Linked DNA regions of Homo sapiens. The protein of the gene in region 7 interacts with the protein of the main gene of each other region in a biochemical or structural test. Each region holds a gene or a part of one and is shown on either strand. Other genes may lie near its edges. The genes, in order: PPARG, ECSIT, IRF8, STAT6, TNIP2, HMGA2 and NFKB1.

Region 1 (4,349 bases), on a different chromosome or scaffold from region 7:
TAAAACTTTTTATTTGTGCTATATTGGACTTTGGGTTCCAAAGCATCACATTGTTTATGGTAGGTACATGTGGAGTCACTGTATTTATAATTATAAGAGCAAACTGGTGCCATTGGAAAAAATGGTCTTTCTAAATAGTGTGTGAAATATGAAACTAGTGAAGAATAAAATCAATATGGAAATGTAAACTTCTATGAAAACATTTCCTTACCCATTTAAGTTTGTGCATTCTGAAATTTACAATGGCCATCAAACCCAGTGACTCAAAGCTATTGGAAAGATATCTGTCCTTTTAAATCCTACACTTACAGCTAAACAACGTATGGGTTCTTTTCCCTTTATCTCTGGAAAAGCCCGACTGAGCTGGAATTTGCTCCCCAAAGGAAAGACATCAGGCAGAATCCTCAGAGAAAGGGGCTTAGGGACCCCAGTAGAAATAAAATCAGGATAGTAGTGCCAATTCATTTCTGGGGCTGCTGGAGAAGTTAGGCTTCTGGGATCATTCATCCATGTATCAATATTAATAAAATAAATTCTTCTATTGCCAGGACTGTCAGGAATAGCTAAAGATGTAAAAGATCTAAACCAGTGTGTTCTTTCAGAGAATAAGTTAAAAATAATATTTTATAGAGTTAAAAAGAAAAGCACTTGGATTTTTTTTTTCCAATGGCTGGACTCAGTTGGCCAATACCCTTGTTTGCCTGCTGAGTAACTCTTTGGCTGGCAATTGATTTTTTTAAGAGCTGTGGTTATGTGCTAGTTCATTAGCATGTGAATAATTCTTCATATTAAGTTTTCATTTGTTTGTCGTAAATCTCTAAACCCTGCAGGAAAGCAGAATATCTTTGACAGCTTTCAAACTTCACTTCTATCACACACAGCACTCCACCAGCACCTCTAGGAAACAGTGGTTCAAAAGGCCCTGCCCCAAGACCCCAGCATGTTAAGAGCGTTAGTTTAAAATCTCCAGTTCATCCTAGAACAATCATTTTAAAAGGAAAAAAAGAAGTGGGGAAGTCCTATAGAAAGCAATGGAAAGGGAAAAGTTCTCAACCCAGAATCGGGGCTTAGGTTCTAGTTCCTGGTTTGCTATAAATGGCACTTTGACTTTGGAATGTCTCTGGCTTCCGTTTATCCATTAGTCAGAGAATGATGGGACAGATTACTTCTGAAGACCCCTTATGTCCTATAAATCTCATAGTTCTCAACAAGAGGGAAACGGGAACAACAGGGGCAGAAACCAACGAGAGGCTGAGGAAACCAAACCAATGAGTTTTGGATTGTAGCTAACCGAGGAGAACCAGGTGTGTCAAAGGTGATGAAAGTCAGATGTGTAAAAAGCAAGAAGGAAACAAAATGAAGAACATGAGCCCTAAGAATTCAGTGTCTTTCCCTGGTAAAACTAAGAACATCAGGAAAGCCACACTCGATGAGGCACACATTTTTCCAAGCCAGTTTTCACTCTGACAGGGTTACCTCAAGTGATTGTTTGAGAGAGGGTAGAGGGGTTGACTACACTCATTCAATCTGCCAAATTAGAAAAGTCACCCAGAATACCCTGTGCTTTTTGAGTGATTTTCATGTTTATCTCCCGTAGCTTGCTATTTTGTTATTCAAAAGGAGTGTAAACTTAGGGCATTCATGTATAATACCTTTCATAACTCATGTTAAAATGCTGATGTTATTGGATTTCTCAGGAACACTACTGTTCTATTTCTCCATTCAAAAAGGTAAAAAAAAAATTAATTACTCTATTTTCATCATTAATCCCATTTCCCCCATTGTCTTTGTATTCTACATAGGAAGCATGCCATAGATCTATAATTGAATTTACTCATCTATATAAAACAGTACTTTTAATCCCATCCTGAAAATCAAAATATATTTTTGAAAATCAAAATATGTCAAAATTGAAAATCAAAATGTCAAAATATTGAAAATTGAAATATATCAAAATTAATTATATTTGATGTATCCCTCAAAAAATTGATTTCTCCTTACAGAAATCATTTTGCTTTCCTGGAAAAACACTGGGTTCAAGTGCAGCTTTCTTCATTCCGTTCTGGTCTGTCCAGTATATGAAAAGCACAAGCACACAATGACCAGTGACAGATTCACCATGAAGCTAATGAAGCTTCATGGGGCCCTTCCCTTGTGCAGAAGTCCTTCCAGTGCTTGGGGAAGGGCCGAAGCAATTTTATTCTCATAATTTGTAATATTTTCCTTAGAGAGACTCCACTACTGTGTATATTTTATGCCCCACAAAACCTGAATTCACCCCATCATGTCCCATTTGTAATTAAGCTTTCTTTCCTGTTAAGGAGGGACGCTTACCCAGCCCTTTGATGTACGGTCTGAAGATAAATACACTGTTAGCCCCCAACTAGAAGTGTAAAATCATTAAGACAAAATTTGAGAATGATACGGCTCCTATAATGGCAATCTTTGGATGATACTGTCCAAGCTGATGGAAAGTGTAAGGACTCCACTTTGCTTTGTAAAAAATACAAAAAAACAGCCATGGAAGTGCAGTACATTTTGTATGGAACATTGTACCACATTGTACCAAATGTCATGTTAAATTAATGATTCAAGATAAAATGCAGACCAAATTTGACCAGGGTTTTAAGAGGTTCTCTCTCCATAAAGCAGGCTGGCCACGATCTTCTCACTAGGTTTGAGGGTAAGGAGGTCCCCTGTGAAATATGAAAGTGAACTCTCTGCTATCTAAGAATTGGTGAATTGGTTGCAAAGAAAGGCAGACCAGGCCCACCCAGGGATCACTCTTGCAGTTTGACAGATCTACCTGGAGGCTGAAAGAATCTATGCAGCCTTCGGAAATGCAGTGAAAACAGTATAATCAGATATGACTAGGGAAAAAATAAAACAACTGGTGTTCATTTGCATGTCAACACCCAGAATTCTCTGCTAGTTCACCTCTTCTTCAGAATGCAGAAAGGATTGAAAAAGCTGGAATGGGGCCGGGCATGGTGGCTCATGCCTGTAATCCCATCACTTTGTGAGGCAGAGGTGGGTGGATCACCTGAGGCCAGGAGTTCAAGACCAGCCTGGCCAACATGGTGAAACCCCGTCTATACTAAAAAATAAAAAAATTTAAAAAAAATTGCCGGGCGTGGTGGTGGGTGCCTGTAATCCCAGCTACTCTGGAGGCTGAGGAGAATCACTTGAACCCAGGAGGTGGAGGTTGCAGTGAGCCTAGATTGCGCCATTGCACTCCAGCCTGGGCAACAGGAGCAAAACTCCATCTCAAAAAAAAAAAAAAAAAAAAATGAAATGGTTTGGCATGATGGTGGGGTGCTGATTCCTCTCTCTGTCCTTGAGTATTTACTGCCAGGAAATCCTGACCAACATCAATTGCCAAGGGGTTAAAGTCACATTGTTGTTAAATTGGGAGAGAAAATTAGCAGGATTTTGTGCCCTATGTTCAACTATTACAGAGTTTCAAAAACAGGAACCTGGAGCTTTATATGAGGGGACAGGGGAAGTAAAGGGGAAGAGTGACAAGGGTGATTTATCAGGGCATAGTTCCAGATAAATCACTTACATGGAGGTGAAAGAATTTCATGCATATGTTCTGTGCCAAGAAGCCAAATGGTTGAGCAGAAGCTCTGAAAGTTGAAGTGGGCAGTTCTGGGTACAGTCTTTCCACATGTGAAAAGGTGATGATTTTATATTCATGTTATTTGTACTCCTGCATGTGCAGTTGGTCTTTTCAGGTGTCCAGATCATCATTTTCTCATGACATGAAAGAAAGCCAATAAAGGCTAGTTGTGGTGGCTCACACCTGTAATCCTAGCACGCACTTAGGGAGGCCAAAGCAGGACGATCACTTGAGCCCAGGAGTTCAAGACCAGCCCAGGCAACATACATAGCAAGACCTCATCTCAAAAAATGAAATAATTTTTTTTTAGAAAAAGAAAGTAAATATTTCATTAATATAAATTATAATACACTGTAAAATGCCTGGAGGACAAGAAACACGTTTTCTCTAGGTTCTGTGAAAGCATCATTATCCATTCACATTTTTCTCATAATTAGAACCTGACGTTCTGGAAAAATACAGTAAATTTTCATCGATGTTACTTGCTCTGCCCCCCTTGTATTCCTCCCATTAATAATATTAATCCTGAAAAGAAAAAAAGAAAAAGGAAAGAAACCACCCAAGCAAAATGTTTAAGAAATACGGTAAGGACAGTTTGGTCCCAATTTCCTTAAAAATTAGAGCCACCAAGTAAACCTGTTTGGGGGTCCTCACATCTGTCCTCTTTTGGAGTTTGCTAAGTAGTACAGTTGAAGTGAATTTTTTGGTAACAAAAGTAAAAACTTCC
Region 2 (4,349 bases), on a different chromosome or scaffold from region 7:
CTCCTGAGTAGCTGGGACTACAGGCGCCTGCCACCACGCCCAGCTAATTTTTTGGATTTTTAGTAGAGACGGGGTTTCACTGTGTTAGTCAGGATGGTCTCGATCTCCTGACCTCGTGATCCGCCCGCCTTGGCCTCCCAAGTGCTGGGATTACAGGCATGAGCCACCGCGCCCGGCGTAGCCACCTTAAGTCTTGAGATTACAGGCATGAGCCACTGTACCCAGCCCCTTCTTTCTTTTTCTTTTTTTCTTGAGACAGAGTTTCACTCGTCGCCCAGGCTGGAATGCAATGGTGTCATCTCAGCTCACTGCAACCTCTGCCTTGTGGGTTCAAGCGATTCTCCTGCCTCAGCCTCCCAAGTAGCTAGGATTACAGGCGCCTGCCACCATGCCCAGCTAATTTTTATGTTTTGTTTGTTTGTTTTTCCTGAGATGGAGTCTCGCTCTGTTGCCAGGCTGGAGTGCAGTCACACGATCTCAGCTCACTATAACCTCTGACTCCCTGGTTCAAGCAATTCTTCTGCCTCAGCCTCCCAAGTAGCTGGGATTACAGGCACATGCCACCATGCCCAGTTAACTTTTGTATTTTTAGTAGAGACAGGGTTTCACCATGTTGGCCAGGCTGGTCTTGAACTCCTGACCTTGTGATCCGCCCACCTCGGCCTCCCAAAGTGCTGGGATTACAGATGTGAGCCACCATGCCCGGCCTAATTTTTGTGTTTTTAGTAGAGACGGGGTTTCACCATGTTGGCCAGGATGGTCTCGAATTCCTGACCTAAGGTGATCCACCCACCGTGGCCTCCCAAAGTGCTGGGACCCTTTAAGAGATGGAGTCTAGCTATGTTGCCCAGGCGGGAGTGCAGTGGCTATTCACAGGCATGAGCCAACTGGTCAGCACAGGAGTTTTGACCTGCTGTTTCCAACCTGGGTCAGTTCACACTTCCTTAGGCAACCTGGTGGTCCCCCAAGTCCCAGGAGGTCACAATATTAAGCAAAACTTAGTGCAGGACACTCCATCAGCATAGTGCACAACAGCCCAGAACTCCTGGGCTCAAGTGATCCTCCCACCTCAGCCTCCAGAGTAGCCAAATTCTGGTTCTAGATGACACAGTAACAAATTTCTTATTTTAAATTGAATTTTTAAATTAGAAGGGTTACATATAAGGCATCTTAAAAATATACAGCTAGTTATCAAGGTTGTACTGTGCTTTGATTGCACCACCGCATTGCAGCCTGGGCAACATAGTGAGACTCCATCTCTCTATGAAAAAATAAAAAAATAAGCGGGGCGTGGTGGTGTATACCTGTAGTCCCAGCTACTCAGGAGGCTGAAGCAGGAGGACTGCTTAAGCCCAGGAATCCCAGGCTGCAGTGAGCTATGATTGTGTCACTGCACTCCAACCTGAACGAGAGAGTAAAACCTTATCTCTAAAAAATAAATGAATGTGTGTGTGTTTATCTACACACACACACACACACACACAAAACGCTAACAAGTAAGAGCCAATATTAGTCCAGGCTCGGTGGCTCACACCTGTAATCCTAGCACTTTGGGAGGCTGAGGCGGGCAGATCACCTGAGGTCAGGAGTTTGAGACCAGCCTGGGCAACCTGCTGAAACCTCATGTCTACAAAAAAATACAAAAATTAGCCAGGCATGGTGGTGAATGTATGTAGTCCCAGCTACTCAGGAGGCTGAAGTAGGCAGATCAATTGAGACTGGCGGGTCGAGGTTGCAGTGAGCCAAGATCACGCCACTACACTCCAGCATGGGCAACAGAGCGAGACCCTATCTCAAAAGAAAGAGACAATATTTACCAAATATTCTTCCACTGTAGACACAGTTGAGCACTTTACAAATGTGAGGCCCTAGGTGGGGGGTACTCTTACTGCACTCATTTTACAGATGAGAAAAACCAAGGCTCAGGAAGATGAAGTGGGATGCACAGTGTTACACAGCTGCAAAGCATCAGAGCTGAGAATGGAGTCAGTGCCCTCAGTCCCCCTACTCTGCGGTCCCCACAGCCATCCCATATCGTTCTTTGATAAGGCAATGTTAAAAAAAAAAAAAGGCATTCATTTACAGTAAAATTTCAGGTTGGGCGCAGTGGCTCGTGCCTGTAATCCCAGCACTTTTGAGAGGCGGGTGGATCACTTGAGGTCAGGAGTTTGAGACCAGCCTGGCCAACATGGTGAAACCCCATCTCTACCAAAAATGCAAAAATTAGCCAGGTGTGGTGCCGCACACCTGTAATCCCAGCTACTCAGGAGGCTGAGGCAGGAAAATCACTTGAACCCGGGAGGCAGAGGTTGCAATGAGCTGAGATCACGCCACTGCACTCCAGCCTGGGTGACAGAGGGAGACTCCATCTCAAAAACAAAAAACAACTGAAATTTCAGTCAATTAATAATATAGGTGGTGTAGTATTGTACCACTTTGGGGTAAAAATCAGAAAGGAAGCTCTAAAATGCCTAACGAGGGGGAAACACTGCAAAGGAGGTAATGTAAATGAAATGCATAGTGCGGGGCCGGGCACAGAGTAAGTGCTCAATATGGGAACTATTAATATTCCCACCATCATCGTTATTGCTATCTATGGCTGTCAATCTGCTTTCGCCATCTGGTCACTATGGGTATAGGAAAGAAATTCAGTTTTCTGCCCCATCTTCACAAGTAGATGCAGGAGGAGCTGCTCACAGTCACCACACAAATCCACCGAGCTCATACATCCTTATTTTCAAAGTCAATCCCCTCACCCACGTAGGCACTAGCATCTCTTAAATTAGGGTCCAGGCACAGTGGCTCACACTTGTAATCCTAGCACTTTGGGAGGCCAAAGTGGAAGGACTGAGGGCCCAGAGGTTCAAGACCAGTCTGGGCAACACAACAAGACCATATACTTAAAAAAAAAAAAAATTAGCGGCCGGGTGCGGTGGCTTATGCCTGTAATCCCAGCACTCTGGGAGGCCGAGGCGGGTGAATCACCTGAGGTCAGGAGTTTGAGACCAGCCTCGCCAACATGGCAAAACCGCGTCTCTACTAAAATTACAAAAATTAGCTGGGCGTGGTGATGTGCACTTGTAATCACAGCTACTCGGCAGGCTGAGGCAGGAGAATCACTTGAACCCAGGAGGCAGAGGTTGCAGTGAGCCAAGACCACGCCACTGCACTCCAGCTTTGGCGACAAGAGCAAAATTCCATCTAAAAAAAAAAAAATTAGCTGGGCATGGTGGCTCAAATCAGTGATCCCAGCTACTCAGGGGGCTGAGGTGGGAGGCTCATTTGAGCCCAGGAGTTTGAGGCTGCAGTGAGCCCTGATTCCACCACTGTACTCCAGCCTGGGTGATAGAGCAAGACCTTGTTTCAAAAAAATAAATAAATTATGGACTTTTGGCCAGGCGCGGTGGCTCACGCCTGTAATCCCAGCACTTTGGGAGGCTGACGCAGGTGGATCACTTGAGCCCAGAGTTCAAGACCAGCCTGCCCAACATGGTGAAACCCCGTCTCTACAAAAAAAATACAAAAACTAGCCGGGTGTGGTAGTATGTGCCTGTAGTCCTGGGTACTTGGGAGGATGAGGCGGGAGGATTGCTTGAACCTGGGAGGTCAAGACTACAGTGAGCTGTAATCACACTACTGCACTCCAGCCTTGGTGACAGAGACACTGTCTCAAAAAACAAACACATAAACATACATACATACATAAACTAAGGACTTTTAATGGGACCTCGGCACTGATAGGCCAGCCCAGACTCACCAGAACTGGCTTCACAGAGTGGATTCTGAAGGAGTTGGGAGCAAATCCCAAGCTTACCTCCCTCTACCCAAAAGACTGCCTGGCTGGTGCTTACCTGAGAGATGGAGGTTCCTGTGAGGGCGGCCCCGCAGGTGCCTCCCCAGGCCCTACAGAGGCCTCGGGCCAGTAGGGTGGCCTGGACCCAGCTCATGCCTCTGCTTGTCAGACAATCACCTGGCCCAAAAGAAGATTCAGCATTAGCCTGGCACCTTACAGATGCTAACAGACGCAAGGGCCCCGCAGGGTCGAGGGCACACTCCAGATTATGTGGCTCACTCACCAGCCCCAATGTTTACCTTACCCAAGAAACAGGCTGATGACTCAAAGACTTTGTTCTTGGGACAGCACCCTAATCCTGCTGCCCCAGGGGCGTGATCATAGCTCAATGCAGCCTCCAACTTCTGGGCCCAAGTGATCCTCCAGCCCCAGAGCGTCGAGAAGCTGGGACTACAGACGCGTGCCACCATGCCCAGCTAATTTGAAAATAGTTTGCAGAGACCCAGGGTCTTGCTGTGTTGCCCAGGCTGGTCTCGAACTGTTGGCTTCAAGTGAT
Region 3 (3,500 bases), on a different chromosome or scaffold from region 7:
AAGAGCAAAAATGTAACTATCCTTTATGGGCATGAAACCTTCCAGAAGCTGCCCTGGCCTGTAGCCTTCACCACAGAACTTGGGTCTGGGGTAGACACAGGGTCTGGGGCACATAGTTTCAGTTAAACAAAGCAGTTCTCTCCTTCGTGTAAGCAGAAATTGAGATCTCTTTCCAGTGACCTCAGAGGGAAGGGCGGAGGAGATTGGGTGCTGCCCAACCTGTGCCCCACTTGCTGCCTGACCACAGACATTTGTAGGGCCTCCCTGGACAGGAACAAGCATCCTCCAGCAGTTTCTGATGAGGAATCCTTTCATTTTCCAGCAGCTTGCAGAGGAGGCCAGGGGAAAATATGGTGACCACAGAAGGCCTGGATCATGAGGGTTGGGAGTAAAGCTCTCAGATGAAGTTGTCAAAGATGGCACCATGGCCTTCGTTGTTGGAGATGGGATATGCCTCAGTGTGTTACTAGATCCTGATTGTTATTTGGGAACTCCGGGATGTGATCATTCCTGAGGTTTCTTCCAGCTCTCAAATCCCAAGAAAGCATTTGTGACAGATTAAAGCAGGACAGCAAAAACATGCCGCACCCTGGTCCTACATCACTAAAATAAATCCCAAAGTACTGAGCTGGGATCTGGCCTCAGAAGGCTTCTCAAAGCCCTGTGCTGTGCCGCTGCCATGAATTGTAGCTGATTTATGAGATAAAACCTAATTACCAGCGCTGGTTTAGAACATGCTTTTAACACATTGATTTTCTTAGCCACTTGATGAGGCTTTTAGAATAACCCACTCTGGCTTTCTCCTTCTAAGCTTCTGAGTAGTCCACGAATGCCTGTAAGAAACAGAAACCCCCAAAACTTCTTGGGGCTGTGCAGAAGTTTGAAGTTTGCACTCTTCCCGCTGTGGGGGTGTTGACTTAGAATTTTTTAAGAAGTTAAAATGGTGATTCAAACAAATCTATAGTGAATCTGTGTCAGAGAGTTGTGTAATCGTCATGAAGGAGGCAGCATGATGGTAAAGATGGTGGACAGAGAATCCGAGGTGCTGGTGAATGTGGCCCATGAACGAGAAAGCTGAGCCAAAGCCGATGCCCGACCCGGACAGTACAATTGCGGTTTGGGGCGTTTGTAGCCTAATCGTCTGCAATTAGCACCTAACTCTACTGAGCGTGAACCCTAGTCAATACTAAATAGTAAGGCCAACAAACTGACCTTCCCTTGGAGAATCGGGTGCCCTTTAGGAGGAAACCTCTATATAATAGTCTGGGGTGACCCTGAAAGGCTAAGCAGTCATCTTTTTGCCTCATTTCCCAGTTTTGGACAATTTTTTTTATCACCAAAAAGTAAAGTGTGATTTGAAGGAATAGAGAAGTTTCTTTTGGCCCCTACTGCCACCCCCAAGATCAGTCAGGCTTGAACCGGCAGGTGACCCCAACTTGTTTATAGCATGGGGTGCAGCCAGCATCACCTGCTAGTGATGTTAAAGAAGCAGCAGGAGGTTCTCAGGGGTGAAGCAATGTAGCATTTGCATAATTGCCTACAGGGGCCCACTCGCCTCTAACCTCAGTGGTTTGCAGGCTCCATGGTGGGCGCCCCACCTGCTCCCTACTTCCCCATCAGTAGCTTCTCAGTGAATTCTTTAATCTATCGAAATGGAATCAAAATTCAGCCAGGAGGAAACAGTGGGTAAATTCTGTAGGTCACTGGGAATAATGAATTTTTGTAAGTGTTGGTTGTGATACGTCTCACACTGATAAACTTCATAAGGTAAGTTGTCGACTGAGGAAGCGGCATGAGAAGGGAAAGAGCAGAGGCTGGCCCAGCGTGCCCCTGTGGACACTGTGCACCTTTAGGCGGTTTGTGATTACGGCTGGTGCCCACTGGGCATCAGTGAGGGTGCTGCGGTGTGTGTGTGTGCATGGCTGTGTGCACTGATGCACATGTGTATATTTGGAAAGGCCAAAAAGAGATTTCCTGCCAACTGGCAATACAAAAAAGACCCCAACCTGCCAACACGTTTTGCCAGGAAATCGGTGAGTGTTTTCAAATGCCCTGTCTTATAAATGTAACCTTCTTAAGTTAGCAAATGCTTGCTGTAAAGTATATCTGATACAGACTCATTTTGGATCTCAGAAAATAGAAGAAAGAGACCAAAGTGCTGTCTTTATCCTTTAAAAGTGTTAGCAGAAACAACCACCACCACCACCACCACCAACTTCTCTCTTTTGACTTTGCTGATCAGATGACTGAAGCATGGGAAAAAAATTCTGTGCCTTTCCCAAACCAATGAAGACACTCACTAACTTAATGTTTCCTTAAACTCAGCATTTACAGAGTAGATTATGGCTTCAGCAAAGGCTGTGATGCCTCCGTGCCATGTGTCATGGTGTTTGTCTGGTTTTCTGTAGGCAAACTAGGCGTGGCAACTGCTGGCTGCGTGAATGAAGTTACAGAGATGGAGTGCGGTCGCTCTGAAATCGACGAGCTGATCAAGGAGGTAAGCAGAGGCAGCATTTCAGGGGTCTGGCCCTGCCAGGAGGAGTCTCATGTCTTCTGGCAGGGAGGGGCACCGTTCTTGCTGTATGAAGGCAGCCAGACCCTCGGGCTCGCTGAGGAAGTGGCATCTCCACCTGTACAGATCTGGAACGGAAGGACTGGCTGGGCGCCCCCTCCCCAGGCCAGCTTCTGCCGACAGGTCAACCCCTCACGCCAGATCCCTCCTTCATCCCTAGGGCTGGGCCTGAGCTGCCGGTTATGTGTCAGTGAAGTTCCTTCCAGCTCCAAACTGTTCGAACACTTTGGACAGCAGTCTTTTAAATGGCATCGTGAATTCCCTTGCCTTCCTAGCAGGCTACAGAGAACAAAATGTAAACTTTCCTTGCTGCCTGCGCTTGTCATGATGGCGGGTGTTGTTGTACCAGCTCTCATGGCTATTTGATTGCTTCCTTTTTAATGTGCAGTTTTTATTCCTTAACGGATTGGAAAGCTGGATAACCAAGCATGTTCACATTGCACATAAATTCCTAACAGGCTACAAGGGAGAGCATAATCGGGGCCTCCTTAGGCAAGAATACATGGCTTTTGTATACCCATTTCAGCTATTGGGATGCCCTTTTCTTCTGTCTTTGGCCTCTTAACTATGCTTTTCATGGGTATTACAAGGTGGACATTTGCATGACTAAACCTCGTGCAGCCTTTGCAAAAGGTTGTGTGTGAGTACTGCATAAATTCTTCTTCTTAATAACATAGCAATAATGGAATCCTTAAGAGTAGCTTGGCTGTCAGAGAATGAAGATAACAGAATGTAACCTACCCGAACGGCCTTGCTCTTCTGCACAGGCAGCTGCCAAGTGTCTGGGTGGTCTTTGGCAGCCGACTGAGTGAATTCTTGGCTTCGTGGCCCTCCACCAATGTCCTGTTTTCTGTAGAAGGCTTTTCTGCTGACTCAGCTGAGAGAGTGAGATAATCGGATTGCCACACCGGGGTCACAAGAAAAGCAA
Region 4 (4,349 bases), on a different chromosome or scaffold from region 7:
AGAGGTGAGGGTCCAGGGCCCTTGTGTGTGGCATTGGAGGAGGACTCGGGGTCCCAGATTGGGGCAGGGCTGGGCCACGGTTCACCTGGAGCTGGATGGGGAGTTTGCCGGGGCCAAGTGTGAAGCTGGCAGAGAAGAGCACAGCGCACTTCTCCTCTGTGACAGACTCAGTGCCCTTCCGCTCACACCGCTTGATCTTCTTGAGAAGCTGTGGGTGGGGTGAGGGAGAGCAAGGGCGAGGTCATGAGGACAGAGACCGCTCCTCCTGGGCTTCCTGACATCCTCTCCAAGGAGAGTCCCACAGTCTCCTAGTGGTGCCCCCCTCACTGCACCCCAAAGCCCCTCACCAGGTTCTTGAACAGGGCAGAGCAGCAGTTCCCAGGAATGCTGTTCTCCAAGGGCACAGTGTTGTTGATGATTTCTCCAGTGCTTTCTCTGCCAGGGGAGGTCAGAGTGTGAACGAGCTCATCTCACTGTCGTCAGGTGTGGCGAGTGCATGGGTGAGTGTAGACTACCCACTGTCACCAGCCCTAAATCTCCATGTCTCTGTTTGGGTTCTTAAGGGAGGAGTCCCCATCTTGGCCAAATCATGATGCCCCCACCCCATTCCAGCCCTAAATGGGTCCCTCCCTTTCCTCTGCCTTGACCATTCAGGGTCTCCACATCCCATGGCCCTCCCTCCCCATCCCTTGCTCTTTTCAGTGCCAGCCCTCCAGGCTGCCTCCATCACCCTAACAGCCCTTCTCCAACCCCAGGTCCAATCCCAGCTTACGCTCCAGCCCCAGGACCCTGAGGCACACTCAGCTCCCGCGCCTGCTTCTCTGTCACCATGTCGGCCCTGACCAGCGGAGGCTTGGCTGGGGCCCCCAGGAACCTCAAGCCCAACAGGAATCGAACTCCAGCCTGGAACTTGGTCTGAGTCTTCAGTACCTGGGGGGGCTGCTTCTCCACCAGGAAGCAACTGGGAGTGAGGAGGACACAAGGGGAGTTGGGGGCTAGGTCCCTGCTGGTGCCCTCCCCACAGCTCTAGCCCCCTTCTTTTCTTCCCGAGGTCTGTTCTAGGCCAGACTGGGAGCTCCCGGGGAATACCTGGTGACGAGGGTTCTCAGGACTTCATCCAGCCGGCCAGTCAGCGATGCCCGGGTCTTGGGCTCAAGCTCCCCACCAGCCGCCCCTACCTCCTGCTGTAGCTGGGAATAAATGTCCACCAGGCTTTCACACCTGGGGCCAGGACAGTGGTCAGGGGGCACAGGATTAAGGCTGCTTGCTCCGGCCCAGACCCCCTTCCCCTATACCCAGGGAGAAAGGCTATCATGTGTGGAGAAGTGGGGTGGGTAGTGGGTGTGGCTGCAAGGCACCTGGGCTGAAGGGGGTTCTGTGATCTGTTGGCCTAGGGTCTGGGTGGGAGGTTCATTCTCAGTGCCTACACCCCCTGTGGAAACCCAGCTGCCTCTCCCCCGACGGCTCTTGCACCCAGGACAACTGCCACCACTTACAGTGCTTTGTGGCAAATTGGAAAGTGTTCCCACCCAATAAACCAAATGGAAAAGCCCTCCTATTCCTCTAGGCATGGGGCTTGAGGAGAGAAGCCTGGGTTGGATGAGTCCCCGCTTGTGCCCCTCCACTAGGCCCACTTGTACAGGATGCGACCTGAACGACAGTGTGCACAGCCCCGCTGGAACTGGCTTTTATGCATCTTGGTCCACTCCAAGGCCCTCCCGCCTGGCTTCTTTCTCTCACCTGTAGGGCCTTCAGCAGGGTCAGCTGCCCACCCCCAGCTTGCCCCCTCTTCCCCATCAGCCCTAGCCCAACCTCTCCTGGAGTGGGGCCAGGCTCTCCTCAAACGGTGCGCCATTCCCTGCCAGCTGCTGCTGCCGTTTCCAAATCTGGATCCTCTTCAGCACTAGGGCTTTGGCTGCCTCTAGCTCTCCAGTGGTCTCCTGCAGTAGCATGGCCAGGGCCTATGGGCAGAGAGGGGCCTGAGCCAGGGCCTCACGCTGCCTCCACACCCAGCTCCTGGGATACGGCTCTTTTTCTCACTCCTCTGGCATTCCCTTGCCCTACTTCAGCCTGTGTCTTTCTGAGGTCTAGCTTCCATCCCTCCAGCTGCACTTTGACCAAGGTCTCCACCTGTCAGCCCATTACTCACCTCACTTGGCCCAGTCCCATTAGCAGGAGTTTCTATCAAGCTGTGCAGAGACACTGAGGGTTGGGGGCAGAAATCAAGGGTGCAGACAGATTAGAGGTTCAGATAAGGTTGAGATCCAAGAGGCAACCACTCCTACACACTCCCCAGAACCACCCTGGCCCCCACCTTGGCCAGCCTCAGCCCCCTTCTGCAGGGCTTCTCGGAGAAGGTGGATCTCCCCTACTCGGTGCTGCAGCCTCCGCAAGCCTGTCTTAAACTTGAGTTCTTCCTGCTTCCAGTGGAAAGGCATTGGCAAGTGGCGGAACTACACAGGAAGGACAGATGCCAAGAAGTGAAACACTCTGCTCATCCCTCTATACCTGGCCTCCACTCTCTGCTCTGCAGATAGCGTTTTCTTGTTCCCCTCTCCCCTTTGGCAGTTCTTCCTGACCTTTTGGAATATCGTGGAGATAAGACCTTGCTCCTAGCAGAATCAGCTCCTTATCCCTTGCTCTGTTCTCCCCGGCCTCTTACCTTCAGTCCCTCATAGAAAGATTCCCTGAGCTTGACTTGGGGTTCACTCTGACCCTAGGAACCTCCTTTGGTCATTCCTGGGCCTAGAACACTGAGCCTTTACTGAGGTTCAAATTCTTTCTAGTTTGTCATGGCTCAGGCCAAAGTCTCAGGGGATTGAGTTGGGGTGGGAGGTGGAATATCACAATACCTGTTCCATAACAGCTTTTTTCTCTCCTTGAAGTATTTGTCTGAAAGTGGCCACCAGCTTCAGGGGGTCCCTCTGATATATGCTCTACAGAAATGAGGGTGGTAAACAGTGAGCTTTGCTCTTACCCATGTCCTTCAATCCCTCCAATCCCCAGGCCTGCATTCACACATATACTATAAGGAAGCACAACTGTAGACTCCAGAAGTTTTTGTGCATTTGCATGCTTTTAAAATCTAATTTGCCTGCTAGCTAGCAGTTAACCACAGGAACACCAATTTGCTTCCAGCATCCAACCAATTTTCTTCCAGGGCCCAATGCTCAACCCAGTTCAACCTCAGCCCCACCCAGCCTTGTCCCCTCCCCTCCTGCCCCACCTCAAGGGTGCTGATGTGTTGCAAGATGGTGCTCCCCTCCCCCTGCTCTCCCACCGAGGCCTGAAGGTGCTGGACAGTGTCTGAAAGTAGGGCACTAGCCAAGTTGCAGCAGAAGGCGTCGGAGCCGACCAGGAACTCCCTGCAGGAAGATCAGGATGAGGCTACCTCAGGCCAGGGCTTCCTCAGCTCTCCTGACCCTTTACCCCACAGCCAAAAGCTCAGCAGTTCCTTTCTCGCTCCTTATTCTCCATCTAGGCCCTCTGTAGCTTTCACCCATGCGCCTTGTTTCCCAGTCTTCTAGCTGTTATGAGAAGTGCCTTTGTCCCAGCCCAAACCCCCCTCCTCTTCGGCTCAGCCTCCTAAGAGATGGGGTCTCCATCTGTCAACATTCATAGCCTGGTCTTGATGGGGCACAGACTCCCTGCTAAATCTAGGTCACTACACATGGAATAACAGGTCTCAAGTTCTGAATCCATGGGTGAGGGGAGAAAAATCTAAGGAGAAGGAAGATGAGTTAGGGAAGACTTGGGGGACCAGCAGGGAGCAGCCAGGACTCACCAGGGCTGGCTCTCCAGCCAGTCACCCAGAAGATGCCGCAGGTGTTGGGGAAAGTCGACATAGAGCCGCTGCACTTTTTCTGGGGGCATCTTGGAGACCAGACCCCACAGAGACATGATCTGGGACTTGGAGGTTGCCTGGAGGAGAAAAATAAGGCCACTCTGAGGGGTGCCCAAGAAACTTGGCCTATCTCCTGGGGCAGCCAGGGACCTCCCATAGATAGCCCTCCTAGGGACCGTCCCCACCACCACTCATGGCCAGACCACCTTAAACCAGGGGCATCCTGAGTCAATGCCTGAGATGGGGGTAACTCCTTCAGTGATAGACACAGGGGTGGGAAGAGCTGAGCTGTAGCCAGAGGGATGGGGAGGCAAAGGGAGACAGGGCAGTAGAGCGAGAGCTCTCTTAGAGTGGCAGAGGATTTAGTTGCAGCTCTAGACCTGGCTCTGGTTCTGTGGGCAAAGAGCCTTCCCTTTGTGGGCTTCGATCTTCTCATCTATAAAATATGAGTGTTAGATGAGTGGAAAACTTTCCAAACTTTTTAAAGCGGTAGGCAATGTCAGCT
Region 5 (3,898 bases), about 100 Mb from region 7:
AGGCCAAGGAACACCAAGGATTGGTGGCCCCCACAGGAAGCTGAAGAGGCGAGGAAGGGTCCTTCCCTAGAACCTTGAGAGAGAGCCGATGCCTTGGTTTCTGGCTTCTGGCCTCTAGAACTGTGAAAGATTAAATTTCTGTTGCTTGAAGCCCCCCAGTTTGTGTTACTTTGTTACAGCAGCTCTAGGAAATTAACACACCCAACCCCAATTACTTCTTAAAGAATTTAAAAAGGTTCTTAAAATGACAATTTTATTTTGAGATAGGGTCTCGCCCTGTCACCCAGGCTGGAGTACAGTGGTGCCACCATGGTTCACTGTAGCCTCCACCTCCCAGACTCAAGTGATCCTCTTGCCTCAGCACCCTAAGTAGTTGGATTACAAGTGCATGCCACCGTACCTGGCTAATTTCTGTATTTTTTGCAGAGACAAGGTTTCACCACTTTGCCCAGTCTGGTCCTGGACTTGAGTGATCCGCCTGCCTCAGCCTCCCAAAGTGCTGGGATTATAGGCACGAGCCACCACATCTGACCTGACAATTTTTTAATATCTGGCCTTAAATTTGTACTTTTCCGTTTTCAAAGAATCCTCCAAAATAAACAGTACATTACATGAAGGAGGTGAAGCAGGCTCAACTAGTCCATCCCACAAGTGAAGAAACAGTTTCAGAAAAGTCACGGAGGAGCCCAAGCTTCCCCCAGAAGTGGCGGGAGAAGGGTCCAGCCTCTGTGTCTAGTACTTGAGGTAAGAAGGGACAGAGACCGGGAACCTAGAATGTTCTCATCACAATGGAACAAAATACTAAGCCCTATTACTGCGAGAACCCTGATTATTATTATTATTATTATTATTATTATTATTATTTTATTATTTTAGAGACAGGGTCTCGCCCTGACACCGAGGCTGCAATACAGTGGTATAATCACAGCTCACCGAAGCCTTGAACTCCTGGGTCCAAGTGTTCCTCCCGTCTCAACCTCCCAAATAGCTGGGACCATGGGCTCGAGGTCAAGGCTGCAGTGTGCTGTGACGGTGCCACTGCACTCTAGCCTGGGTGACAGTGAGACCCTCTTCAGGGATAAAGGACTTTGAGCAAAACCTGACTTCTGGTTTTTTTTTTTTTTGATAAAGACAGGGTGTGGCTATGTTGCCTAGGCTGGTCTTGAACTCCTGGCCTCAAGCAATCCTCCTCCTGCCTCAGCAGGGGTCACCGTGCCCAGGTAAAATCTGATTTCGGAGCCTCCTTCCTGCGTTGGTCAAATGCTGACAGTAGGAGAAACAAACAGCTCCACAAACAGGAGGGCAGCATGTCCACAGCTCGTAGATCCTGAGGGCGTGGCTCTCTCTTGCCTCCACACCCTAGTACTCAACACTGAGCCCAGCCCCACACAGATGCCCAGTAAATGGGAATAAGACTGGGCCATACAGAGACAGATCAGGACGCAGGCTCTACGCTCAACCCGTGGGGGCAGGCCAGCCCTGCAAAGGGCTGCCCCACTCATCCTCCCCTCGGCAGCATGAGGGCCCCAGGACCCCTCCAGCCCCCGGGCTTCTGGCATTTGTCACTGGCTCTGAAGTTGCAGAGCTTTGTGCTGGTTTATCTGTCTGAGTGCCTTGTCCAGTTAGTAACAGTTCTTAGGACACAACAGCACCTCGACCACTGTGGTCAGAAAACAAGGTACGAGCTGGAGTTGTGGGTCTACACACACAGGCACAACACACAGACTAGTCAGCAACTGGGCTGACATCTCTCAGGAAAGCCTGTCGCCGGGACCCACAACTCCATAGCTCCACGCTCAGAACACAAAAGTGTAAACAGCTCTATTAATAGTCTTGTGGATTGGCCTTAAGAGGCACAGTGGCCTCTTGGCTTTTAGCGCTGCGGCAACAAAGTATCACAAACTTGGTGTCTTAAACAACAGAAGTGTATTCTCCCAAAGCCTGTAATCCCAGCACTTTGGGAGGCCGAGGTGGGAGGATCACTTGAGCCCAAGGGTTGGGACTAGCCTGGGCAACATGGCGAGACCTTGTCTCTACAAAAAATACAAAAAACATTAGCCAGGCATGGTGGTGGGCGTTTGTAGTCCCAGCTACTCGGGAGGCTGAGACAGGAGGATCACTTAAGCCCAGGAGGTCAAGGCTGCAGTGAGCTATGATCATGCTACTGCACTCCAGCCTGGGCAACAGAGTGACCCTGTCAAAAAGAGGGGAGGGGAGGGGAGGAGAAAGGAAGAAAGAAAGGAACAAGGAAGGTGGCCCGGGGCGGTGGCTCATGCCTGCAATCCCAGCACTTTGGGAGGCTGAGGTGGGTGGATCACGAGGTCAGGAGTTCAAGACCAGCCTGGCCAACATGGTGAAACCCCGCCTCTACTAAAGATACAAAAAATTAGCCAGGCGTGCTGGTGGGCGCCTGTAGTCCCAGCTACCCAGGAGGCTGAGGCAGGAGAATCGCTTGAACCCGGGAGGTGGAGGTTGCACTGAGCCAAGATCCCGCCACTGCACTCCAGCCTGGCGACAGAGCAAGACTCAGTTTAAAAAAAAAAAAAAAGGAACAAGGAAGGAAAGAAAGAAAAGAAGAGAAGAGAAAAGAAAAGAAAGAGCCAAGAAAACAAGCAAAGCAAAGCTAAGCTAAGCCGGAAGGGAAAGGGGGCTGATACGCCAGGACCAGGCAAAGCCTATGAAGCTGGTCCCGAGAATGGTGACAGGATGGGGTTGGGCAGGACCAGGTTGCACAATGAATTGGTGCCATTATTCCAGAAAGTATTAACTGGAGGGGCTTTGTAAAGTTATCCACTCAGGCCTTGTGTTACAGATGAGGTAAGGTCTCAAGTCCAGCTGTGGCTGCACTGAGGACCACAATTCTCTGGCCTGATCTTGCCCCATCACACACTGACCGCAGCTTGATCACAGACGCACTGGTCAGCTCCTCCACATTCTGAGCCTCAGCACTCTCTCTGGGAGCCCTCAGTCCCTACTGGTCCAGGGTTCCTGCTCCTAACGGGCTCTCATAGATGAGAGCAACCTAGCAACGGCTTGCTTCCTGCTGTGTCTTTAACTCTGCACTGCCACCTCAGTGAACCCAGGGCCTGCAGGAGGTGACAAACCTCTCCATTCTTCCACAGGTTCCATGACCGACCTCAGATTGAACGTTGGGATGAGCAATAAATATGTAATTGCATAAAATACCAGATAAGGCCAGCACAGTGGCTCACGCCTGTAATACCAGCACTTTGAGAGGCCGAGACAGGAGGATCCCTGGAGGCCAGGAGTTTGAGACCAGCTTGGGCAACATCATGCGACCCCTTCTCTACAAAAACTTAAGAAGTTAGCCAGGTGTGGTGGCTCATAGTCCTTGTGGTAGGCTCTTCGCCTATAGTCCTAGACACTCGGGAGGCTGTGATGGGAGGGCTGGTTGAGCCCAGGAGTTCAAGGTTACAGTGAGCTATGATGGCCCCAAGGCATTCCAGCCTAGGTGGCAGTGTCACAGACCAAGACCCTGTCTCTAAAAAAATAAAAATAAAAATAAAAAAACAAACAAACAAAACTAAATCATTAAAATGTTCCTTAAATAATTAAAAATCCCCCCATGCTGGGCGTGGTGGCTCATGCCTGTAATCCTAGCACTTTGGGAGGCCAAGGCAGGAGGATCACTTGAAGAAAGGAGTTCTAGACCAGCCTGGGCGACACAGCAAGATCCCGTCTCTACAAAAAAAAAATAAAATTAGCCAGGTGTGATGGCACACTCCTGTGGTCCCAGCTATATGGGAGGCTGAGGCAGGAGGATCACGTAAGCCCAGGAGGTTGAGGCCACAGTGAGCCATGTTTGTGCCACTGCACTCCAGCCTGGGTAACAGAGTGAGACCCTGTCTCAAAAAAATAAAAAAATAAAAATCCCAAA
Region 6 (4,349 bases), on a different chromosome or scaffold from region 7:
GGACACATTTGAAGTAAGAATGTTCTGCTTTGCAGATGACGTATCGGTTTTTTTTTTTTTGTTTTTTTTAACAAACTTCGTCTCCTCTAAGGTTAATCTTTTTCCACATTTCTGAGTAGATTCTTCTTCATTGCATGATGTAAAGAGGTATCTATGCAACCCCTCGCCCTAAAAGACACCCCCTGTAGTGATCTCTTCTGAAATACATGAAAATGCTTTTTCAAAAGCTATTTTGCTTTTATTTCTGTCCATATTAAAAACATTATCCCCACATTCTGTAACTACATAAGTTAGTATTTTAGAAAATTAATATTTCTTAAGATGATCAAGATTCTTTCCATGTCACAACTAAAGTTGCAAAAATTAATATTGACATATTACTTTACAATTTACAAAGCTCTTCTACCTATATTGGTAGTCAAAAGCAAGTATAAATGTGAAAAAGAATACACAAGCATTCTAATTCAAAATAACAAATATTTGCACACTTCTACATGTTTAATTTAATGTTCCTTGCCTGAAACAATCACCTGTCAATCAGTTCACCTAAAGCAGAGGAAAAAAAAGCAGGCAGAAATCATCAGTTTGTCCCAGTGATTAAAACTATATGTGCCTAGAAATAATGATTAATTAAAAATGTACTTTATTAACCATAATCCCACACTTAACATGAATACATTTCTATCTTGAGAGTTTATTTCATTGCTTTACTTCACAGAAGATTTTTCTGATATCACAGTTGTTAACATTATTTATAAAGCAATTAGTTTTTCCGTTTTTGTCAGCCCTAGTCCAATCTTCATACACAACAACACACCAATACACACACATATCACATACATCTATAAAAACGTGTTCCTGCTTTTTAGGATAAAGAAAACTTAGTACATATTGTTTCATGTATAAGAATCATCCATGGCTATATTAACACACAAATACAGGTAACTTGAACCAGGATACCTTGTTCCACATTTTACTTTTGTTATCTGAGTTAGCAGCCGGTGGGGGTACTTGGTACAGTGATATTGACTGTCTACACTGCCAAATGAAACTTTCCTCTTTTTCTCTTCAATCTGCCTGGTAAAAACAAATAGCTTTACATGATAGTTGACAAACAGATAGATGGATAGGCAGATAGACAGACAGGTAGATGAGAGATAAAATAAGCCACAACATTTCTCACCAAATAGTATCTCCCTGATCTGGCATTACTATCCAACAGGTCCCATGAATTAACGCAAACTCTATATGACTGTAATGTTAACTCACAAATATTGAGCATTTAAAATATCCCAGGCACTCGATTGTCAGTCACATGTGTTACGTTAATCCTTACAGCAGCCTTATAAAGTGGGTATTATTATTCCTCTTATTTTGTAGATGAACAACTAAGTCTTAGATAGGTTAGGTATACAACTGGCTCAAGGTCACAAACAAAGCAGGTAAGTGGCAGACCTGGGATTTGAACCCAGTTTTGTCTAACTGTAAAGACTGTGCTCCTAGCCTCTTAACAATGCTACTACCCGGTAGTATACAAGCATTTGCTACCATAAAAAAATACTTTAGGAAACTAAAATTGTCACTGATTCAGTTAATTTCCCAGGACAAAAGAAAACCTGGTAGCCTTTAGGGGTTCTATCTAACCATCTGATTTGGACACTCTGAATCATTGTTTATTATCACTTTTGAATGGCTCCACAAAGGAATCATTTGTTGTCAGAGGTTAGTGGCATTGTCTTACCTTCAGTCCCAAGGGCATGAATTTAGCGAAAGCCCAGAGTGTCAAGTAAATAATACCCTCTTCAGAGCATTGCCTCATGGAGAGGGAGGTGCCCTGAGAAGATCACAGACTCTACCTTGGAACGCTTAGATTCCAATTCCTGCTCTTCCATTTTAGCTTTATGACTTTGGGCAGGTCCTTGAAGACCTCAATTTGGTTTCATCCGTGCAATGGAGATGACTCCTCCTGTGAGACATCATTCCTAGAAGTACTTAGAAGTTCCTGCCTCCCATGAGGTGCTCCATAAGTGTTCTTTCACTCCTAACTAGATGGAACCCTTAAAGGGAGTTTTTCTTTTTTTTTTTTTTTCTTTTTGAGACGGAGTCTCGCTCTGTCGCCCAGGCTGGAGTGCAGTGACGCGGTCTCTGCTCACTGCAAGCTGCGCCTCCCGGGTTCACTCCATTCTCCTGCCTCAGCCTCTCAAGTAGCTGGGACTACAGGCGCCTGCCACCACACCCGGCTAATTTTTTGTATTTTTAGTAGAGACGGGGTTTCACCATGTTAGCCAGGATGGTCTCGATCTCCTGACCTCGTAATCCGCCCGCCTCTGCCTCCCAGAAAGGGAGTTTTTCTTCAAGTTAGTTTCCTCTCACAGAAGCCTTGGTCAATGCAAGTATTCCTTCACACCCATCTGTCACCTTTAGAATGAGGCTTTTAAGGATCCCTTTGGCTATTGCATAGTGAGTTATACATGAGTGTGGAGTTCTCTAGCACAGAAGCAGCATCTGACTTAATCTTTGGAAGCAACTGTAAGATTGCACAGTTAACCCAGTAGTAAATTACACAAACATGGAAAATAGAAATCCTTTTTATTGAAAAGGGGGTGTGAAGTCAGGGTGGGAGAAGGAGCCTATTGACCTTAGAAGTTAACAGTGCTACACCAGGCTTTTTCTGCACGGTTGTTATGTTTCAGGGGCCATGATGTGATCTGGGTGTATCTAAAATCTATTGAAGAGAGAGGTTTTTTTTCTGAAAGAGTTTCACTGTATTTCAAAATCAGAGAAAGCAAATCTCTCAAAAACAGAAAAAGCCCTGCAAATAAGATGACTTTTAAATGAGCATCTCATTTACAAAAAGCCTATTGAGAAATAAAATTTGCACCATTAACTAAAGGGCAAAATATCACGATTATCACTCGGACTTGTTAAAAGCAAACTTGCTCCTTGGTCGTTCAGGCCAGTGTTACATGTAAACTGAAACCCTCTTCTGAGACTACATCTAGAAGAAACACATTAGCTGTGCTGTGTGGCGTCAATCTGGGAGGTTTTCATTGTTCTTTAAAACCCACATTATTTAATCATTCTAATCAAACTCCACAAAGGCTGCAAAACAAGTTAGGGTTTTAGTTTGTAAACCAGCTTAGATCCAGGATTTTTACATATTGGAAAACATCAGCTTTAATATTGTTTTCCTGTGTTTAATGCTCTTCAGGATATTATTTTTCAAAAAAGACAAACAAAACATTCAGGAGGCTTGTTTTGTTTTAACATATGCAATACTGTAGAAGTGTATATTTGGTTTTCCTTTGCCAGAATAGAATTTGGCTTTATACTACAAACCCATGTATAACAGAGGCATAACTAATTCTCACTATTTATTGCTCACATCAAGAGAGAAAAGGGAGATATGGTCGGAATTCTCATTGGTAAGAACTGAAATTTCAGACTGTTACCAGCACTATTATGCGAATATTTACAACAATCATATCTCATTAAAAGTGTCATTTCTCCCTTGTTTGCCCTCATTAATATTTTTATGTTTTAAACTTCAGATTCAAAACTGTACACTTAATTTTATGATATATTTAGAAGCAAGTCCATGAAGATTAGGAGAAATGTTAAATGGGAAATATAATTATTTCTTTCTCTAAGAAGTTCTGTACTCCAGGCTCTTCAATGTACTGCATATTTTAAAAACTAATTAGGAAAGAAATTCACTAGCAAATACATCTCTTGAGCTTGAAAACAGTGCTTAGCACTAGTGCCTCGTGTACAGGAGGTGTTCACTATATACTTGTTGAAGGAAGGGAAGGAGGGAGGCAAAGAGAGAGGCAGGGAGGAACGGAGGGAGGGAGGGAGGAAGGGAGGAAGGGAGGGAGTGAGGGAGGGAAGGAAAGAAGGAAGGAAGGAAAAAAAGGAAGGAGGAAGAAGGGAGGGAGGGAGGGCAAGAGGAAAGGAAGGAAAAGTGTTTATATGTGTGTCTTATTTCCCTCTTATCATCAGAATTCTAGAGTTCAGTAAAACTAGAGATAATTTCACCTAGCCCTCTCATTTAGCAAAGAAGAAAACTTCTGGATGTGTTACAATTCCCAAAGACATAGCCCCATGATATTATTTGGGAACCAGAAGTCTTGTGGGTATCAGTCGCAGAAGGCATACATTTCCAATCCCTTTATAACCTTTGGAGTGGCCCTTCAAAGGTTTCCCAAAGCGTAATTTCCAACCTGCATTTCAGGTTACTGGAGATAACAGAAATCTACCTTGTAACAAATATTTTACAGAACATTCAGCACATGGTAGTGGAAAGAGTATAAGCTTTAGAATTAAAGTGAATTCAAACCCAGGTGCTA
Region 7 (4,349 bases):
GGCTAAGTTACAAATCCATCACTTCATATACTTACAATTTTTTCTGTGGTGGGTTATTTTCATATTTACAAGTCTTAATAGCTTCTTGTTTCTCACTACAACCCACTGATTGTTGATTTTGAGCACACCTAGTAGTAAATTTAGTTTTCTTAAATATCTGGTAGGAGTTACCTCCAGCTGATAATTTTATATTAACAAATCAAATTAAGGCTATGTTTTCACTGAAGAAATTTAAATAAAGTACTCAATAGAAACCAATTAACAAAAGTGCCATGATTCTATGCTGACATGGAAACTAAATTTACTAAATTAAAAAATACTGTCCCATGGACTGGCTCCTGAGACCAGTCAATATAGCTTTCCTACACCCATTTCATAAAAGGTATTATAAGATTCTAAATAACATAACCAGGATAATACAAGTATCTCACCAAGGGGGCTCAGCTGAATAAAAAAGGTGAGCTGCTGATACCTAATAGGTACTTAAATAGTCCATTTGACTATCCTGCCCACAAGGTATTACTTCGGTGAATGCAAATAAGATGTTTTGCAAACTGTGTGTTTTCAAAAATGAGTAAGACAAATACAATCACAAACGTATCTTTCAAATAACTGAGTTCACTGACAGAGAACAGCAATGTATCTTTATACAAATCAGTTTATTTCACAGGAGCCTAACTATGACATCCAGCCAGTCTTGTGACAATTTGCCTAAAATTCCCTTTTCATTGAGCAGTTACTGGCTACAGCAGCAGGTGAGCCACCAACCTCCTAGCTGTGTAGGTGACCACAGCACATGATAACTGGCAGGATGAATGATGGGAGGGTAGTCTAAATCTCAACTACAGTGATTATTTACTATACAAGACCCTTTTTTTTTGCCAAATTATTACTTGCCCTTATTTCTTTCATTTTCTAGGACTATCAACCTGGCCTGAAATGAAGTGATGTCCTCAAAACTTTAGATATTGTTGCCAAGAGCCTTCTTCTCAAAAATAAGTCAATGGAAACTGTGTTTACTAATCTGTGTTTTCTGAAATGCTACTTGGGGAGATGGGAAAAGGAAAGAGAATGAGATTGTGAAAAAAGGATCTGAAATTATAAGATAGTATACCATTCAGGAATTATAAATTATCTGTAGCTTGAATTTAATTAAAAAATATCTTATGAGTCGGAGAGGTTTTTTTTTTTTAATATTTTCTTCCACAGTCCAATCAATGGTTTTCCATGATATAAACCTTCTAGTTCTTAAATCCAAGGATTATATCTTAAACAATTATACCTTCATGCTATGGCTGTGGGCATGGGGACTTACACAGACATTCTGGAAAGCCAAATATACAAATGTCCCAGCAACCCAACTCTTGCAGATGTATCTGGGTGAAATTCTGACACAAATCCACAAGAGGACATAAGTGAGGACAGTCACTGCAGTATTATCTACTGAGGTAGGAAGTTAGAAGTTGGTTAAATGTCTACTACTAGGAAACAAGGATGTTATAGGTGAAAGACCCATACTAGATTCTCTTCAGGAGCTGAAACAACAAACTAGCTATATGTAGAACTGTGTGGATAAGCAGTGAAGGCAGAAATACAGTAACATGTAGCACAATGCCACTTAGGCATTTAAAAAATATATGCACAAAGAACTATACAGATACACACAAGTGTGTGTAAAACTGGTGAAATCTGATTAAGATCTGTGGATTGTATCAACGTCTATTTCCAGGTTTTGACACTGTTCTGAGGTTATGCAGGATGTTACCATTGGGGGAAACTGGGTGAAGAGACCTCTGGTTTCCTTGCAGTAAATACTAGGACTTCCTAGTACGTTTTTGTAACCTCCTTTGAATCTATAATTAAATTAAATTAAAAAAATTTTAAAGGTTAATGCAAGGCAAGAGAAGTACATTTAATATAATGTGGATTGTATGTGAGAGTATATGAAAATATCTATGTATTTCAAGTATACGTACATTTGTATCCAGTACTTGAAAAACTACCTATAAACACAATAGTGACATTTGTGCTAGCAGACCTGGGCATTGTCAGGGTGGGCAACTTTGACTTTCCAATGTAGATTCTTCTGTACCATTTTTAAAACTATGAATATACATGATATGTATAATAATTAAAAACATAAAAATACATAAAACCCTCCAATAATGTTTTATGGGAACATACACAAATAAAACAATCCATACCAAACACGATAGAGTGGTTGTCTATGTTGGGGGAAGGAGAATGAAAGGAGAAAAAGGCTTAAAGAGAATATTTTCATAAAAAATCCTAACTCGGTGCACTTGGACTATTTTGAGTGTGTTTCTAGAGGGTGGGTGGGGAGAGGAATTTGATCATGACAGATGGTCACAGAAATGTACTTAGATTAGTGAAAGGTATTTGGGAAGAATGCTTAACTGTCAAATAATCCAAATTATTTAGAGAACTGTATCATTTTCCATTAAGAATAGTTACTAGAGAACCTTTACAACAGATAATCAAGAGTTCAAATCTTAGCAGTTTCTAATTCTCAAATCAAAGTTGCCATTGGGTGTGTGTTTGACACCTAGAAGGCATACTAGGGAAGCCAGAATCACTGCCCATTAATCAGACTGGTGGTAAGGTAGGGGAAAAATGGACGTATAGTCTTCTGAGAGTCCCCAAATCAGAAGGGATAGAAGTATCAATGGTGGCGGTTTCAGGGTTTTTGTCTCTAACACACTGGAGAGTCTCAACATATGTAACCAAATGATACAGTAAAGAGTTTAGGATATAAAAAAAAAATCATAGCTACTGGCCAGACGCAGTGGCTCATGCCTGTAATCCCAGCACTTTGGGAGGCCGAGGCTGGCAGATTACGAGATCAGGAGTTCAAGACCAGCCAGACCAACATGGTGAAACCCCATCTCTACTAAAAATACAAAAATTAGCTGGGTGTGGTGGTGCACGCCTGTAATCCCAGCTACTCAGGAGGCTGAGGCAGAAGAATCGCTTGAACCTGGGAGGTGGAGGTTGCAGTGAGCCGAGATCGCGCCACTGCATTCCAGTCTGGGTGACAGAGTGAGACTCTGTCTCCAAAAAAAAATCACAGCTACTAATCCTGTTGTGCTGTGTCCTTTGCAGATCCTATTTATAAACATAAAATAAGTAATTCCTTGAATATGACTGTTAAGCAGGGTTTGAAAAGAGGACTGACAAGCTACAATGTCCCATTCCTGGTTTTATTCATAGATTTGTGATGACTACAAGGAACAATCAGCCAAAAGTCTGCGAGAATCAAGCTTTACAGGCAAAATGACCTTACGGATACCAATGACCCCAAAACGGTATGAAAGTTTCAAGAAGACATCCTTTAAATGTAAATCTACAATCACACTTCATACTAGTTATTTTATATTAACAGGCAGTGAAGAGTCACTAACTTTACTTTTCCTTTGACAAGAAGCACAAGAGCCAGTGAAGAAGCCTAATGGTGACTTATATTGAATGAAAAATGGTCATTTTCCCCTATCAGGAAACCTATTAATTTTTACCTAGTCACAGGTAAAAACTATTAAGAGCCACATGTAAACGTTTTAGTAGTTTTGCTTTAAATGCACTTTAAAGCACACTTTTTTTTTTTTTTTTGAGACAGAGCGTCACTCTGTCACCCAGGCTGGAGTGCAGTGGCGCGATCTCGCCTCATTGCAAGCTCAGCCTCCAGGTTCACACCATTCTCCTGCCTCAGCCTCCCGAGTAGCTGGGACTACAGGCGCCTGCCACCATGCCTGGCTAATTTTTTTTTTTTTTTTGTATTTCTAGTAGAGACGGGGTTTCACCATGTTAGCCAGGATGATCTCGATCTCCTGATCTCATGATCCGCCTGCCTCGGCCTCCCAAAGTGCTGGGATTATAGGTGTGAGCCACCGCACCCAGCCTAAAGCACATTTTAAAGAATGGAAATAAAAATAAGAAAATAGATATTTTAATTTCCTTTAAAGAAAATGAAGTTTTAATTAATTTTCTTTAAAATAATAAAAGCATTTTCCTTTAAAGTGAGGAAATAGAAATGATTCACATCACTGCTATAAAAACTGAGAGAGCAGGAACAAATATCTTTACTAAGTAAATAATTACACAGGATTTTGGCCATAGTTTTGGAGTGAGAGATACACGTGAACCAGCAAACCATCTCTCCAAGGAGGATGAGGAAGATGCTTCGGGTCGATGAAGGGAAGGAGACAAATGGAAAGGTAAGAAGTGGGCAAGGGCAGGAGCCCCATACAGCAGACTGGTGGGAGTAGGGGAAAGACAGTGAGGTGGGAAAAGCAATCAGGGGCAGGAAGGAGGAAACCTCAGGAGCCGAACCC

What was found.
Region 1: the proteins of NFKB1 (region 7) and PPARG form a complex in vitro, tested with the Homo sapiens proteins (one study listed by BioGRID).
Region 2: the proteins of NFKB1 (region 7) and ECSIT form a complex in vitro, tested with the Homo sapiens proteins (one study listed by BioGRID).
Region 3: the proteins of NFKB1 (region 7) and IRF8 form a complex in vitro, tested with the Homo sapiens proteins (one study listed by BioGRID).
Region 4: the proteins of NFKB1 (region 7) and STAT6 form a complex in vitro, tested with the Homo sapiens proteins (one study listed by BioGRID).
Region 5: the proteins of NFKB1 (region 7) and TNIP2 form a complex in vitro, tested with the Homo sapiens proteins (one study listed by BioGRID and IntAct).
Region 6: the proteins of NFKB1 (region 7) and HMGA2 form a complex in vitro, tested with the Homo sapiens proteins (one study listed by BioGRID).

Annotation. Positions count from the first base shown.
Region 1 is NC_000003.12:12,410,548-12,414,896, forward strand, and holds part of PPARG (peroxisome proliferator-activated receptor gamma), read left to right. Parts: intron 1-4,349. UniProt on the Homo sapiens protein: Nuclear receptor that binds peroxisome proliferators such as hypolipidemic drugs and fatty acids.
Region 2 is NC_000019.10:11,515,224-11,519,572, forward strand, and holds part of ECSIT (evolutionarily conserved signaling intermediate in Toll pathway, mitochondrial isoform 1 precursor), read right to left. Parts: intron 3,971-4,349; 5' UTR 3,948-3,970; coding exon 3,852-3,947; intron 1-3,851.
Region 3 is NC_000016.10:85,909,162-85,912,661, forward strand, and holds part of IRF8 (interferon regulatory factor 8), read left to right. Parts: coding exon 1-12; intron 13-2,408; coding exon 2,409-2,497; intron 2,498-3,500. UniProt on the Homo sapiens protein: Transcription factor that specifically binds to the upstream regulatory region of type I interferon (IFN) and IFN-inducible MHC class I genes (the interferon consensus sequence (ICS)). Can both act as a transcriptional activator or repressor.
Region 4 is NC_000012.12:57,104,379-57,108,727, forward strand, and holds part of STAT6 (signal transducer and activator of transcription 6), read right to left. Parts: intron 3,922-4,349; 5' UTR 3,901-3,921; coding exon 3,785-3,900; intron 3,366-3,784; coding exon 3,227-3,365; intron 2,937-3,226; coding exon 2,853-2,936; intron 2,454-2,852; coding exon 2,315-2,453; intron 2,203-2,314; coding exon 2,150-2,202; intron 1,962-2,149; coding exon 1,813-1,961; intron 1,222-1,812; coding exon 1,090-1,221; intron 962-1,089; coding exon 773-961; intron 436-772; coding exon 348-435; intron 214-347; exon of another isoform or gene 209-213; coding exon 86-208; exon of another isoform or gene 1-85. UniProt on the Homo sapiens protein: Carries out a dual function: signal transduction and activation of transcription. Involved in IL4/interleukin-4- and IL3/interleukin-3-mediated signaling.
Region 5 is NC_000004.12:2,749,570-2,753,467, forward strand, and holds part of TNIP2 (TNFAIP3-interacting protein 2), read right to left. Parts: intron 1-3,898. UniProt on the Homo sapiens protein: Inhibits NF-kappa-B activation by blocking the interaction of RIPK1 with its downstream effector NEMO/IKBKG.
Region 6 is NC_000012.12:65,834,105-65,838,453, reverse strand, and holds part of HMGA2 (high mobility group protein HMGI-C), read right to left. Parts: intron 1-4,349.
Region 7 is NC_000004.12:102,601,817-102,606,165, reverse strand, and holds part of NFKB1 (nuclear factor NF-kappa-B p105 subunit), read right to left. Parts: exon of another isoform or gene 4,135-4,349; intron 3,652-4,134; exon of another isoform or gene 3,180-3,651; intron 1-3,179.